Linked DNA regions of Homo sapiens: region 1 is linked to region 2. The links come from fine-mapping of genetic effects on gene expression. A gene starts in region 2. The other region holds a variant in brackets. All regions are shown on one strand. Distances are between the middles of the regions. Region 1 overlaps BRD7 (bromodomain containing 7). Region 2 holds the start of BRD7 (bromodomain containing 7).

The links. PIP is the estimated chance that this variant, and not a neighbour inherited with it, causes the effect.
Region 1: its variant is fine-mapped to the expression of BRD7 in whole blood (TOPMed, PIP above 0.99). The same link has a PIP of 0.9 or more in blood mononuclear cells.

The regions. Positions count from the first base shown.
Region 1 is chr16:50,332,981-50,340,980 of GRCh38, reverse strand. It overlaps BRD7 (bromodomain containing 7), which reads left to right. Exons shown (of 17, transcript NM_013263.5): 6 at 895-1,005; 7 at 6,086-6,270; 8 at 7,284-7,407. Among named protein-coding and RNA genes, the nearest start is that of BRD7, 32 kb to the left of the region's middle. RefSeq lists an enhancer at 5,296-5,375. The variant A/C (reference allele first, on the strand shown) is at 3,429.
Region 2 is chr16:50,364,374-50,372,373 of GRCh38, reverse strand. BRD7 (bromodomain containing 7) reads left to right here and starts at 3,386. Exons shown (of 17, transcript NM_013263.5): 1 at 3,386-3,648; 2 at 4,076-4,284. The coding sequence starts at 3,600. RefSeq lists silencers at 3,208-3,457, 3,488-3,997.

The DNA of each region.
Region 1 (8,000 bases), 31 kb after region 2:
ACCTGTCATCACTATTAAATAGTGGAATTTGAATTTTTTTTGTTTTTTAAACAAATTTGTAGGGGGCAGATTCTCTTTTCTTGGGTTTTTCTTTCAACTTAGTAAGGCCTTGGCATAATGAATCGCACATTTATAGATGTAAAAATTACTTAACTATGAAAGCATGCAGTGGGGTCAAGTTCTCCAGCACATAGCGGACTTGGAAATTTAAGCCAAAAAGACAGTTTTGGTAATTTGGCTACTCCAGTTACATGTTTTAACTCCTTGAGGTTGTATGGTTTATTTCACATTGGCATGGTTTTGCAACATTCTGCAAATTATGTTTAGTTTATGATAGTATCCAAACACATAAAAGTAGTGTAAATGTTTTAACATTTTTTGCTCAGTTAATGTGAATTTGGCAGGAAATACTGCGATAATTTAGGACTGCTCCGTTTTCAGTCAAGATCTGAAATAAAATGTTCAATTCCTAAATGGAAATTTAAGATGTTTGTTTTAAAGCTAGGAGTAATATTTTTTTTATTTACATGAACTACTCAGCTAAAATCATTACATATGAAATAGAAGTATTTTCTTCACATTTTTTTTATGTGCAGTAAGATTATACTGAAGAAACCCATTTAAAAGTTTCATTCTGGGATCTACAGTTTATATACAGGTACTATAAAATATTTAAGAATTTGGGAAATAATATAGCATATTTAAATACATTTAGCAGTATTTGTTTTGTTGGTGAGTCTTAAAACTTAATAAATTACTGTTAGTATTGTTTAGTAAATAAAGAAAGGGATGTTGCTTTTTAAATTTTTAGAGGACCTGTATATTTTCAACCTGGGGGTGCAGGGTAGTTTGTTTTGCATTAATGCATTTTCTCCCTTAATGTTCTTTCTGCAGGATAACTTCAAACTAATGTGTACTAATGCCATGATTTACAATAAACCAGAGACCATTTATTATAAAGCTGCAAAGAAGCTGTTGCACTCAGGAATGAAAATTCTTAGCCAGGTAAAGGAAACTCTTTGTCATAAATAATAGTTATTAAAATCTGTGTCGCTGTTTGTTGGCCATAGTAATACAGATACAATACAGTATTGATTTTATTTTATTAGCAGGTTATATTATATTAAATAAAGTAGAAAATACTAAATGAAAAAAATTTTAATAAAGAGAAGAAAATTAAGACAGGAAAATTCTTACTTGGAATCAATACAAATAAATATTGGCATTCACTTGTAATTATCTCTTAAGACATAAAACATCAGCTTGAAACATCAGCCTGAATTCCAGGATAAGACTGGCTGAATTGTGAGAACTCTGAAGAGGAAAGCTCTCTGTTTGCATTTGTAGGGGTGGAATCTAACGTTGGTCAGTCCTGTCAGAAGCACAGAATTTCTAGTAAGAAAATACAGTCATGCGCTGCATAATACTGTATATACAGACTGCATATACAGTGGTGGTTCCATAAGATTGTAATACTGTATTTTTACTGTACTTTTGTTATATTTAAATGCACACATACTTAGCATTGTGTTACAGCTGTCTGCAGTATTCAGTATGGTAACATGCTGTATAGGTTCCTAGCCTAGGAGCAGTAGGCTATATCATTTAGCCAGGTGTCTGATAGGCTATACCATCTAGGTTTGTGTGAGTGTACTCATTGATGGTCACACAACAAAATTGCCTAACAGTACATTTCTCAGAACGCGTCCCTTCATTAAGCTACATGTGACTATATACAAATGAGAGAAAATTTGAAACTGTCTCAAAACCACCTCTCCACAACAGCAGACTCTTCCTTAAAGGGTAAGAATTAGTGCATAGTAAGTCATTTGAGGTCAGAGAAGTGTGTGCGTAGGCACAGACACATCATCATCAAACTGCAGGAAAGAGCGTAAACATGAGATATTATACACAGTGGCAAAAAATTACTAGTGTCCCCAGGACGACAGTTGATAAAAGGCTTTGAAGGGTAAGCTGAGATGATCACTGTGCATCCGCTGGAGAAAATAACTCGCAAGATAAGCCATATCTTTTGAGGTTTTTCTCACCACTCTGAGTGGGAGAAACCTATGTAAGAGACTACTTTAGGGAACGAATCAAGGGTGATCCTGGCACCATACCATACCATGGCAGGCAGGCAGAAGAGAGTTTTCATTTTAGCTCTCTTCCACTAACTTGTGGACTTTGGGCAAGACATTAACTACCCTGGGACTCAGTGTTCTCATCCCTAAAGAAGGGTTTAGTCTGTGGTCTCCAAGATGATTTCTAGCATTACTGTTCTGATTCTAGATAAGAGGTAGAGTAGAGAGGATACTATGAAAAAGAACCACAAGATAGGACAGGGATTTTGCAAAGAAGAAATGAGTGGGTATAAGACACTGGTAGAAGGAGAAAGGAATCAGAGTCCAGAGCTTGAGCTCACATTCAGGGGAGTTAAAGGATGATAAAAATGAGTCGTGCATCTGCATGTGGTTTTTCGATTTTTATGGTGATTCATTTTTCTGTATTACAGTTTTACATTTAAAGAAATGCCTTGGTGTGCAGATGTCTGAGTGTCTGTATGCTTGGCTGAGAGATTCTTGGATTCACTTAACTAGAGAAAGAAAAACATGTTTGGATTGTTGATTATTCTTGCGCTCCTAATATTTAGACAACTTTGGTTCCCACCCTTTCCTAAAGACTTGGGAAACTAATGGAAGCCAGTTACCCATCTTTGACAACATTCGCAGAGGAAAGAGGAATATGAAATGTTTACCCATTCTTTGCAGGAAGACTCTCAGAATCTAGAACCATGCCATATTCCAGGTTTAAAGACATGGAAATGCTTCTTGTTAATGTATTTGAAGTAAAAATGCATTTGTCAAATGCAGCCTTTAGTCACTCCAAAATATGTACATTGAATTGGGTGGTGGGAGCCTAATTTTTAATGACCTTTGATTTACCACTTCCTTAAGTAATGTAGTTAATACAACAAGCAAAAGATTCCATTATCTCTTGAATTTTACTGGCGTGTGGAATGGTTGAAAGCACAGAAAATAAAATTTTCTTCACTTTCCCTTCCCTCTCTCCCTCTTTCTTTCTCTCTGTTGTCTTCCTTTTTTTCAGATCTTTTGCTGTTGAGGAGCCCCACCCATCCTGTGTTATTAGCTTCCTATTGACTGTTCTCTCCACCCTACAGGGGAGGGGTCGTCACAACAGTGATTTTTAAACGTTTAAATTTAGACCTTTTGAGTTAACTCTTCTAATAGTTTGTGCTCCAAGAGAGCCCAGCACACCCTTCCGTGAATGGTGTCTTTTCAAAGATAACTGTTTTTGAATGTTCATTGAAAAAATTGTAGAGTAGTCACTCATCATTTTTTCAGTTACACTCAAATAACAACTATTAGTAGACGTGTTATTTTTATAAAGAATGAACAGATGAGGCCAGG[A/C]ACAGTGGCTCATGCCTGTAATCCCAACACTTTGGGAGGCTGAGGTGGGCGGATCATCTGAGGTCAGGAGTTTGAGACCAGCATGACCAACATGGAAAAACTCCGTCTCTACTAAAAATACAAAATTAGTTGGGCGTGGTGGTGCATGCCTGTAATTCCAGCTACTCAGGAGGCTGAGGCAGGAGAATCGCTTGAACCTGGGAGGTGGAGGTTGTGGTGAGCCAAGATCACGCCACTGCACTCCAGCCTGGGCAACAAGAGGGAAACTCCGTCTCAAAAAAAAAAAAAAAAAAAAAGAAGAATGAACAGATGAAGAGTAACTTTTTATCTCCTAAATAAATACTTGAGTAAAATGCTGCATTGTAGTACAAACAAAGTAGTACAAACAATACTATTTGTAGCATAGTGGCTTTGAAATCAGACCAATCAAGGTTCAAGTCCTAGCTCTACCCTTTGGAAGCTGTGTGACTTTAGCCCAGGTAACCTTTGTCAGCCTTTTTCCTGTCCTGTAAAGTGGGGATAATAGTAGTACTTACCTCATGGAGTTGTGTCTGGCACATGGGTAAGCACTAAGTAAATGTTAGCTATATTATTAGCAAAGAACCAGCCCTGTTAGCCATTTAATATTGTAAAATTGAAGATCAATAATGTGCTGACTTGGAGGCATTTTAATTACCAAAAAAAGAAAAAGACATTGCTTTCAAAGGAAAATTAAACTTCACTCTTTCCTGGGACTTGTTTCAAGGTTTAGAAACTTTCTCTAATTGAATTTATTTTGTGCATGTCGTGTTTTTTAAAACCCCAAAGCATTCTTAATGTAAGTTCTGCTTTATAAAATTCTAGAGTGGAAATAAAATTATTACTGAGAACTTACAGAAATAATTAAACTCACTAATATTTTTAATGTAGCAAAATAAAACGTGTTTTTAAAAATCAAATAAGATTGCTTTTTGTTGTTGTTTGTGTTTTTTGTTTTTTGTTTTGTTTTTTTGAGACGGAGTCTCACTCTGTCACCCAGGCTGGAGTGCAGTGGCGCAATCTCGGCTCACTGCAACCTCTGCCTCCCGGGTTCAAGCGATTCTAATGGGTTAGCTTTTTAAGTGATACTATTGATTTTGTCAAGGATTCAGAGAAACTTTCAAACACTAATGTAAATTAGTATGTAAATTGGTATACCTTTTCTGGAAAGCAGTAATTATCAAAAGTCTCAAAAATATTCATTCCCTTTGACTTTGTTTCCTTTCTAAGAGTTTATCCTAAAGAGATACTGGTTCCTAGAGAGATTTATTTATAATGATGTTGATGGTACTTTTATTTATAATAGTGGAAACATGGAAATCTAAATGTTCAATCATAGGCCATTAATTAAATCATGGTGTAGACGTGGGATTAAATAGTTATTAAAATATTTTAAATATCTATTGATATGGAGAGGAAATGCTTATAATTTATTAACTGAAAAAATGCTTTTTACTAAATATTCAGTATAATTCCAATTTGCTGGGTTATGTAATGGTTGGAAAAGTACTGGAATAATAAACTTGTTAACACTGTTCTTCTCTGGATGAGACATTAGGAGGATTTTTATTTTCTCCTCTACCCATATTTTTATTTGTCCACAATAAAATAGATCGCTTTAATGGTTTTAAGATTACTTTAAAAGTCCAGTAAAAAACAGCAAGAACTGTGTTGGTGAGGATGTCACCATCTGCACTACTAATAGAGCATGGTGTGATGAGGAAAGGCCCAACATGAGTGACAGCAAGCCTAGTCTTAGTTGCTGGTTTAGTGACCTTAGGTGAGTCATTTGTTGTTCCTGGGCTGCGTTGTTCTTGTTTGAATGGCCTCTGGTTCTTTCTAGTTCTTAGTTTATGTTACTCCACAGAAGTCTTCCCTGCTGTTGCTGTGCAGCCCTAAGGAGGTTGCACTCTATTTTACCCAGTGATAACTTTCAGAGTACAGGCAAGGTAGTCAGTAGAAACAAATATGCCTTCTTAAAATTTACGGAGAAACCTCAAGCCCTTAACTACAATGAAAATTTCACAGCACATCATTGCAGCGAAAAATTAAGCACATGTTTCACAGAATAGAAACAAGACTTCTTTGGTTAGCGAAACCATTCTGCACTCTGAGGAAGGAACTGTGCCACCAACTGTCTTCTCCTCAAGGCTTGTTGTTTTCACACAGAGTGAAATGCCAGCGTCATCCGTGAGCACACTGGGCTACCAGAACAGAGAGGGACTTCACACGCTCACATGCCCTAGGCTTTGATACACCTAACAGTTCTTAACTGTCAAAAGATAAGCCTGTCTGTTAAACACAAAATGTTAACACACCATTAAACTAAATTTTAGTCTTCCAATTCAGTACTTCAAAGAATACTTAGTCTTAATTCATACTTTCTCCTCTGTTAAATTTCTGATAGGGCAATAAAGTTGTAAAGCTTTCTATGAAGTTGGAAATTAAATTTTAAGAATTGAAGGTGTAGGCATTATCATGGTTTCCAAATACAATACTCTCTTGGTATATGATTACATTTAATTGTTTTTCTTCCCTGGTTAATGACAGGATAAGTATAAACTCCTGTGGGGAAAAAAATGCATTACTTTAAAAGTTAATGACAAACATATAATAAGAATATTTTCGAATATGTTTAGGAAAGAATTCAGAGCCTGAAGCAGAGCATAGACTTCATGGCTGACTTGCAGAAAACTCGAAAGCAGAAAGATGGAACAGACACCTCACAGAGTGGGGAGGACGGAGGCTGCTGGCAGAGAGAGAGAGAGGACTCTGGAGATGCCGAAGCACACGCCTTCAAGAGTCCCAGCAAAGAAAATAAAAAGTAAAAGATCTTTGGGATGTTAAGGTCAAACTGTCTTCTTCAAGCTAGTAAGGGGGAAAAATACTTATTCGGGGCCTGACTTGGGAAGACCAAGTGCTAGTGTGTCGGTGGTGGTGGTGTTTTGGCATGAAAGTCCATTTTGATGGTGTGATACCCCTCTTCTCATATGAAGCACTATATGGGATTGTCCAAACACAGTTCAGAAAGCAGTTCTAATGTGTATTCTTATTGAAGTAGTTTTAAAACCTATAAAGTGTCTTTTGGGACTGATATGGTCAGTGAGTTTATTTAAATAGAACTGTTTGTTTAAGAAAAAATGCATAGTCATTACCTCCTTCCATAAAGGAGCAAGGAGTTCAGTGGGAGCACAGGCACTGCTGCGTCTTAAGCAGATGGGCTGTCACTGCAGCGTGCCCATGTTTTCCACCCAATGTCAGCTGGTGGGAGCAACGCTGAACCACTGTTCCACCTAGGCAGCCACCTGTGCAGCTGACGGCAGCCGCATCTGCCCGTTCACACTACTGGGAGCCAGCCCTGACCGCCCAGCACCTCACTGCCAACTTTGGGGAGGGTTGTAGTTAGCAGTTTGGGATTTTTGCTGTCATAATGCAAAGAAAGTAAACTAGTGACAAGTTTTTCTTTGTTCTAAGATTTACACACTTAAGTGCTTGTTTTAAATTTTAAAAATCAAACTTTAAAAGAACAATGGTATATTGTTCTCCCTTCAAAGTAATGTTTGAGGTAGAACTAATTTTTTTGTAAGTTCCCAGAAAAACGTTTAACACAAGTAACACTGGACAGAAAAAGGTAGGGAAATAACATGTTAGGTGTGCCTTACTGTTTCTGTTCTTAAATTAGAGACCCTTAACAGGTCATCAAGGAAGTAAGTTTCAATGAGTGACTGTAGTACAAATGTCTCCACTTTAGTTGTATTCATATTTAGAATTCATTTGAATGTTTTCATCTTACTTATCTTTGTTTTTTTTTTACTTAGTATTAATGTATATTTTCAGGAAAGACAAAGATATGCTTGAAGATAAGTTTAAAAGCAATAATTTAGAGAGAGAGCAGGAGCAGCTTGACCGCATCGTGAAGGAATCTGGAGGAAAGCTGACCAGGCGGCTTGTGAACAGTCAGGTGATTGAGCTTTGCCTTTTCTTTTCTCTACCTACTGATTTGGGGCATCTGAAACTTTTAGTTTTTAAATTGCTTGCGTATTTTTAATCCATATCTGCCATAGAGCTCTTCATCAGTATAATACTTAGCAGAAAAACAATTAATAATGGACAGACAATTCCCTACAATGGGTTTATCAGGGTGTTAAATGCATTTTCAACTCATGATATTTTCAACTTACAGTGGGCGTGTTGGATGTAACTCCATTGTAAGTTGAGGACCATCTGTGTTCATTTGTAAAGTACATGATTAATCTTACCCTCTTTTACTGGATTTTTAAAAAATGAAGTTATAATATGTTCTAAAATTGGAACATGAACTACAGAATTTAAATTTACAGGAAAACATTTGTATTCTGGTCTTTTGAAATCATATTGTTTAGCATGTTGGTTTTATTTAATTTTAGATTCAAGGGGTACATACACCATTTTGTTACGTGGGTATATTGCATGATGCTGAGATTTGAGCTTCTCTTGAACCCATCACCCAAATAGTGAACATAGTACCCAGTAGGAAGTTTCTGAACCCTTGCCCCCTTCCCTCCCTGCCCCCTT
Region 2 (8,000 bases):
GCCACCTCCAAGCTGAGCTGCGCAGAGATTTCCTGGGCATGCCACACCCCCCAGTGGCCAGGCTTTCTCCTCCACAGACTCTCCCGGAGGGCTCCAGTCACCTCGTGTCTCCACCAGAAAGGGGAGGAAGGAGGAAGAGAATTATTATCACAACACAGTAATTATGATGTATTCATTTGTCCAACAAATATTTCTCCAGGGCCTGTGCTGAGCCCAGCTCTGTGCTAAGTGCGGGGCACACAGCCAGGAGTGAGACAGACCTAGTCCCTAACCTTGGGGACCTGGGAAGCCAGTGGACAGATGGTGGACACGCACACAGATAGGGAAGAGATATTCAACATAATTTTGGAGGCTGTAGGTGCAATGGAGAGAAACAAGGCATTGCACAGGCTGAGGGAAGAGGGGAAGGGGTGTGTGGGTTGGTGGTCCAGAAGCTTCTCTGAGGTGGTCACAGGGGAGACCAAGGTGATGTGAGGGCAGGAGCCACTCCAGGAGCTCAGGGGAGAGTGTTCTGAACACAGGGAAGAGAAGCAGGGGCTTGGGGCAGGAGGGAGGAGGGGGCAGGGGGATGGGGCTGGAAAGAGAATGAGGGCCAGATCCGGCCCTGAAAGCCAAGGTGCAGATTTGGCTTTGACTTCGAGTGAGACAGGGAGCCACAAGATGGTTTTGAGCAGGAAAGTGACATTCACAAATATTTAAAAGTTAGTATTAGCAGCTGATATTTATTGACCATTTACTATCTACCATATCAGGCATTACTCTCGGCACTCTGACCACATTATCTTCTTTGATCCTTACAACCACCCTGTTGCAGCAGCACACCCAATGACCTCACCCTGGTTCCAAGGTTCAGAGGTAGGCAGCCCTCTCAGGACATGCCAAAGTCACAGACCCTGTAAGCATCTGTGACCCCAGGACTCAAGTCAGCTCTGTCTCACTCACTCAAGAGCTGTTGGGCTGTTGGGGGAGAAGTCTGGGCACAGCTTAACTGGGGCCTCTGCTTCTGGGACTCTCACAGGGCTGTGATCAGGATGTCAGCCAGGGCTGAGGTCTCATCTGAATGTTCCACTGAGGAAGGATCCACTTTGAAGCTCACACAGTTGCTGGCAGGATTCAATCCTTCAAGGCTGTTGGACTGATAGCCTCAGTTGTAGCCGGATGTCAACTGGGGCCCAGCCTCAGGTCTTTGTCACATGGGCTTCTCCAGCATGGCAGCTTACTTCATCAAAACATGCAAGCCAAGAAGGCAAGAGAGACGGTCAGCAAGTAAGACTGAAGTCTTATGTATCCTCAACACAGGAGTGACGTCCATCATCTTTGCCATATTCTATTGCTCTGAAGCCAGTCTCCAGGCCATTCTACACTCACTGGGAGGTCATGAATGGCAGCAGGCAGAAATCTCTCAGGGGAGTCTGCCCGAACCAGGACCGTGCAGCTCAACTAGCATTTTCTGGTGCCTTCTATGTGCCAGGCATGGTATTAGTGCTGAGAATTTAAAACTAGATGAATTTGGGCTTCCACTTCCAGGAACATTTTTCTGGGAGGTGTTTTCTGCTACGTACTCTTATTCACTTTCCATTGATGTGACCACTTTGTGACCTATGTAGAATCACTCTTGAGAGGGTAGGGAAATTACTAACTTGATAGTATGGATGAGTTCACCAGACCTTTTTCCTCTGAGGGGCATTTGGACAGTAGTAGTCACTGTGCTAGGCACTGTAAGTACCAAGGAGGTACCCAGGGTAATGAGGAGCAGACAGGTAAACCCACAGGTTGAGCCTGGAGCAAGGCAATGCCACAATAGAGGCCAGACCCACAGTGGGAGTTGGCATAGTGGTTCTTAAAGCAAAATAAGTTACAGACAGTGGATGAAAAGCTGAAACCAAGCTTTGCCCTATGCTTAGGGGGCCTAGGGGGCCTAGCTGGCTTGATTTCAGAGCAGCAGAAGGTCTCTTCCCCAACACAACCCCTCTTCCCACACCCTGATCTCTGCCTCACGGACACCAGAGAGGCTTGTTACAGGGAAATAATAGACACACACTTTTAGCTTTCATGAAAAAGCAACTCTCTTCATTAGAAGAACCTCATCTTCCCTGGCTAACCATAGAAGTCTGGCAGGAGCTGCCAATCACAGACTCCACTTCTCTTGGCCAAGGGGGTGAGGGGGTAGATTTGGCATCCAGGCCGAATCAATCTCCCATCCCCTGTCCCATAAAACATGTGACACAAGCCAAGCCAATCAGAGTCCTTCCCTGGGACTGTTTTCCAGGTGAAGCTGACAGGAAGAGATCTTTTTCCCAGTTGGTCAGGACACTATAAAGAAGAGGCCTCAGAAGCAGATGGTGGCCATGTTTCCAGCCATATAGGAAAGAAGGGGGGAGATGGAGACCGATATACAGAGAGACAAGAGAGAGAGCGAGCTGGCATGCCAGTCAACAGCATTACATCCTTGGTTCCTGTCTTCCCTCTGGCAAGCTTTATTCTTGCCCTTTCTAGACATGTAAACCAATAAATCCCTTTTTATTTACTTGAAATAATTCAAATTGGTTTCTATTAGTTGCCAACAATAGGGTCCTAAAATATAAGCCTATAATTTCACCACTGAAGTTCAAGGTAAAGCTACAAATCTTCCTGGGAGAGGTGATTCATGGGTCTAAATTGTTACTAAAGTATAAATGACTGATAACAGATCCTTTCTTAAGAGGAGACTATAATTACGAGCTTATCTGAAAACAGACAAAGCACCATACAGCTAGAAGTAAAGACAGTCAAAACGTCTGGTAACCTTCACCTATCAGCACATAAGTTTTTTTTAAGATTAGAATCTTCAGTCACCAATGTGCTGAGTTTGCTGGGTCTGGCACCCAGTATGGGGTTCAGTCAATATCGTAAAAGGGAAGAAACAGAAGCAAGGGAAAGTGGAAAGAAAGGAAGAGTGGGGGAAGGAGGAAGGGGAAAAAAAGAAAAGAAAAAAAGAGGGAAGGAGACGGGAAGAGGAGAAGGAAGGGTGATGAGGGAGGAAGAAAAGAGAGAAGGAAGGCTTGAAGGGAGGCAGTAAGGAGGGAAGAAAGAAAGGAAGGAAGGAGGAAGGAAGGGAAGAAGGGAAAGAGAAAGAAAGAGAGGGAGGGAGTAAAAAGAAGGGAGGGAAGTGGAGACGGAGGGAGAGACACACAGAGACAGAGACAAGACAGACAAATTGAGGGGAAAGGGAGGAAGGAAGAAAGACGAGAGTCTGAGCGGTGGATCCCGCCCCGGCCCCGCCCTCGGCCCCGCCCCCGGCCCGCGAGCTGCAGCACCACCTCCGGTCGCCAGGGGCCGCCACCCGCAGCCGCCGGCACCCTGTGCGCGCGGCGGGCCTTCTTTCCCGCCTCTGCGCCGGCCGCGCGCCCCCCCCGCCGCCGCTCTCGGGCTCCGGCCGGGTCTCGCGCGCCGTCTTCTCGAGAGGGGCATCGCGCCGCCCGGCGCGCGCCGCCCCCCTGCCTCGCGGCGCGGGGTCTCGCGGGCCCCGCTCCCGCCCTCCGCTCGCCTGGCCCGGACCGGAAGCGGCGCCGCACGGCCTGGGCCTGGCGCGGGGGGCGGGCACCGGGGCCCGGTCGGACATGGGCAAGAAGCACAAGAAGCACAAGTCGGACAAACACCTCTACGAGGGTGAGGAGGGGGCCGGGGTGCGGGCGGCGGGCCCTCGGCGGCTCTGCCGGGCTTCCGCTCTTTCCCAGTGGCTCCGGGGCGGCCCGGGGCCCTTCCTTCCCACGGCAGGCCCAGGCCGGCGAAGGGGGCGCGTCCTGCCGGAGGCCGCGCTGCCCCCCGTGCGGCCGCGGCATTCGAACCCGGGTCCCCCTGGTCCGGTGGGTCTCTGGTGGGGAGACGTGAGGCGGGCCCGGGAGGCCTGGGAGCGTTCGGGGCGGGCGGCGCCGCCGCACCCCCGGGCCGGGGTCCGTCATTCAACAGGTGCTTCGCGGAGCGCCCAAAGCCGCCTCGGGCTTGCTGCGCCTTGGCGCTCTGCATCCTTAGCACTCCCTGGAGAGCCCCGATTTTAATCGACGCGCTTTCCTTTCTTTTCTTTTCTTTTTTTAAGAGTATGTAGAGAAGCCCTTGAAGCTGGTCCTCAAAGTAGGAGGGAACGAAGTCACCGAACTCTCCACGGGCAGCTCGGGGCACGACTCCAGCCTCTTCGAAGACAAAAACGATCATGACAAACACAAGGACAGAAAGCGGAAAAAGAGAAAGAAAGGAGAGAAGCAGATTCCAGGGGAAGAAAAGGGGAGAAAACGGAGAAGAGTTAAGGTACAAGTGGTTACATTGCTTTGGCTTTGCGGACGGCACTGCCTCTTCCAGGTGCCAACCTCATTTTATTTTCTTTGTATCTGGGGAAAACAAACGCCTCTAAGATCTGGCTCGTTTGAGGAGGAGCAGGACAGAATAGAGACATGAATCATCTATGAGTTTCAGCAAGTCGTTTTTGGATTATACTCTTAGGCAATTGTACTCGCACATCAGGTGAGGAAGCAGCTAAGTCCAAATTTTGAGGAGCTGCTTCAAAGAATGGTTTTTCCATCTAGGCAGGGTAAAAAGTCATGCTCAAGAAAGCCTCAGTGTTCAAGGATTGTCAAAAATAGTCATTTCAGAAGCGAGTGGGATCTACTGGGGTTTAAAGTTTGTTCTGAAATAAATATTATAATGCCAAATCTGTAATGAGCAACTTTAAATCTTTTAAAACAGTGTTGTAGTGTGTTGAGAAAATTTGGTCAGAAACCTGTAATGGAGATTGATATTCTTAACCATTTGCATTTAACAGAAAAGAATGAGTAGCTACCATCTTGGTTTGAAAGCTGGGCAAAATAATAATTAATGGCTGGGCCCAGTAGCCCACACTTGTAATCCCAACACTTTGGAATGCCGAGGTGGGAGGATTGCTTGAGGCTGGAAGTTCGAGACCAGCCTGGGCAACATAGCAAGGCCCTGCCTCTGCAAAATAAACTACAAAAATTTCCAGAGCCTGGTGGTGTGCACCTGTGTCCCAGCTATTCAGGAGGCTGAGGTGGGAGGATCCCTTGAGCCCAGGAGTTTGAGGTACAGTGAGGTATGATCATACCACTGCACTCCAGCCTGGGCAATAATACGAGACTCTGTCTCTAATAATAATAACATTGTTATTACTGTTATTAACTTTCCAAATTTAACCTGCCACTGAACGACTTATTACATCAATTATTGTGAAGGTAAATTTTCATAGGTTAGTTATGTAATTTTTCTTATGTTTATATATACAAGAGGAGCTTTCTCTTCCATGTGATTGAACACATTGCTAAGTCACCAAGTCTTAGAGATCTTATTTTGGGGATTTCTTAAGTCTATTCCTTCCCTTTTGTCCCAGTTTTTATTACCTTTGGCTAGGTAGGAGTAATGTTTTGTTTTCTTCCTTAAATTATAAAACCCATATATGCATTTGATTTTTTAAAAGTAGTTCATGTGGTGCAAAAGTACACAAAATGGAAAAAGTTTTCCTCACCCCAATCCTTCACATAGACTCCCTCTTCAGAGGTAACCAGTTGTTTTTTTTAATTAATAGTAGTAAAGTAATTCGTGAAGATGATTTTTAAAAGTCAAGAGTACTACACAGCTTTTTGACACAAAGCAGGCTGCTGCTCCACTCTGGACACTTTTTAGGTATTTTTCCTTGCCTACTTATTTCTATTTCAAAATAAAGGTTTATATTGCTATTTACTGATTTAGCAGTTTATATCTTCTACTGACATCATGTTATGGAAGATGAGAATTCAGTTTCCCTTGCTCAAGGTATAGGTACATCACAATTATTGGTTAAATCAATATTAAAGTGATTGTAGACAAGTATAGTATGCAAATATAGATCTGATCTTAACTAGTTAGATCATTGCTTTCATTTGTTTGGTTATTGCTTAATAATTCTTCCCAAACTCTAAGATTTATGAAACTCATTTGAGTTCTTTACTTCCTTTTTTATTTTCCTCTGGAGACATTTATCTTACAGCTTTCTGTCTCCTGGAGGCTGAATTAGTTGCTGTCAAGGCCTCCTGGGACTCTCCTTCACCTGCTTCCTGGATCTCATGCCTTCCTCTTTCTTGATTCATTCCCTTGTTCTGGTGGACTCTTAACTCTAGGAACGTCCTAAGAAAGCATACACGGGGTAGATTTTATAAGTTCTAACATGTTTGAAAATCTGTATTCTGCCCTCATACAGGTTGATGGTTTGACTTGTTTAGATTGAAAATTATTTTCTTTCAGACTTTTGAAGGCATTGCTTTGTTGTTTTCTGGCTTCTAAATTTGCTGTTGAGAAGTCTGTTGCCATTCTGATTCTTAGTCCTTTGCATATGACCAGTATTTGCTAACTTGAAATTTTTAGGATCTTCCCCCCTTATCTTCAGTGTTCTGACATTTCACAATGAATACTTGTGCCTTCAGTTCAGAGCTGTGTGCTTGAAGTATTCCTGTGTTCATTTCTTTCCCTCCATTTTTTCTTTTCTTGGTTTCTGGAACTCCTGCCCTTTAGATATTAGACTCCTGAACTGATCCTCTAATTTTCTTATGTTTTTCTCATATTTTTTCTGGGTGTGTGTGGGGTGGGGGAGGGTTCTTCCTTCAGGGAACATCCCTAAAATTTCTGACTTTTCCAGATTTATTTCAGATCTTATACCTTGAATTTCCAAGAATTTTTTCTTGTTCTCTAACTGTCCTTTTTGAATTAGCACCCTGTTCTTGGTTTTAGATGCAGTATATTCTTTTCTTTCTCTGAGGATATTAATCGAAGTTTTTTCCTGTTTTTTTCTCCTAAGTTTTCTTTTGCTCCCTGCCCTGTCTCTCTCTCCCAAATTCTTCCATTTATTTGTCTGTCTCTGTTTTCTGTTGAAAGCATCCTTTAGTTGTCTGTTGAGCTTTTGCAGTTTGTACAAAGCTGAGTAAATGCTTTGTACCTAGACAGAGTTTGTCAGTTGATGGACTTTATTGTAGAGTGACTAACAGGGACTCAGTCATTTTGGTGAAGAATGCCCCAATGTCTGTACCTTACAGATGTTTTCTCTGGGATTTTTAGTTTCTCCAGAGAAAAATCCTCCTCTCCTAGGAGATGGATTTTGCCAGTTTTATCCGTGTTTCTGGAGCCAACTATGGGGCAGGGGCTGAAGGTCTTACCACCCAGTTTTCTGAGTCTGGCATTTCTCCTTATTTTGGCTCGTCTCGAGATTTGGAGACTCTCAGGTTCCCTGCCTCCTCCAGTTCTGAGCTTTTCCAGGGTTCTGGAATTTAGGCTTTTTTCAAAGGTGTCCACCTCTCTGCATACGGGAGTATCTTGCTTTCTCTGTTCTGCAAATCACCCCATTTGCCTTCCGTCTCCCAAGTGTGTTGACGTGGCTTATCAACCTTTGTCTCTTACGTGCTCTTTGTTCCGGCCATCGTCTTGTTTAACAAAAGTTGAGGTAACCACTTTGAACCACTCTGGTTTTTGTTCTGGCAGTTACCACCATAATCCCATTGATACATTAATATTCTTCGTTTCTTGTTTTATTCGTTATCTTTATATCGATTACATAGTATTTAGTTATATGGATATACCATACTTATGATTATTACTTTTAAATCTTACATGTAATACTGCAGTGAGCCTCATTGTACACACATCTTTGTACACTTGTGTAAGAATATCTTCAGGATGGGTTCTTAGAAGTGTTCTCCCCCCTGTGTTCCAGCCACTCTATCCTTTCTTGACTGTGGCTCTAAAGATCATTAGTCCCATTGTATTTTGATGTCATTGCAACCTAAAATGGGTTCATATCCACAGTCTCTTCTGGACACACCTCTCAGAATAGGACAGGTAGGGGGATGGTTTCTATTTCACATTCAGGGCTAGAGACTTCAGATCCTCTGGGGTGTCACTGGTTCTGTAGGGACTGTTTGGGTCATTCTTTTTTTCCAGGCTAGACCAGGGAAGCAGGGAGAGATTCTTTTTGCTAGTGTTATGTAGGG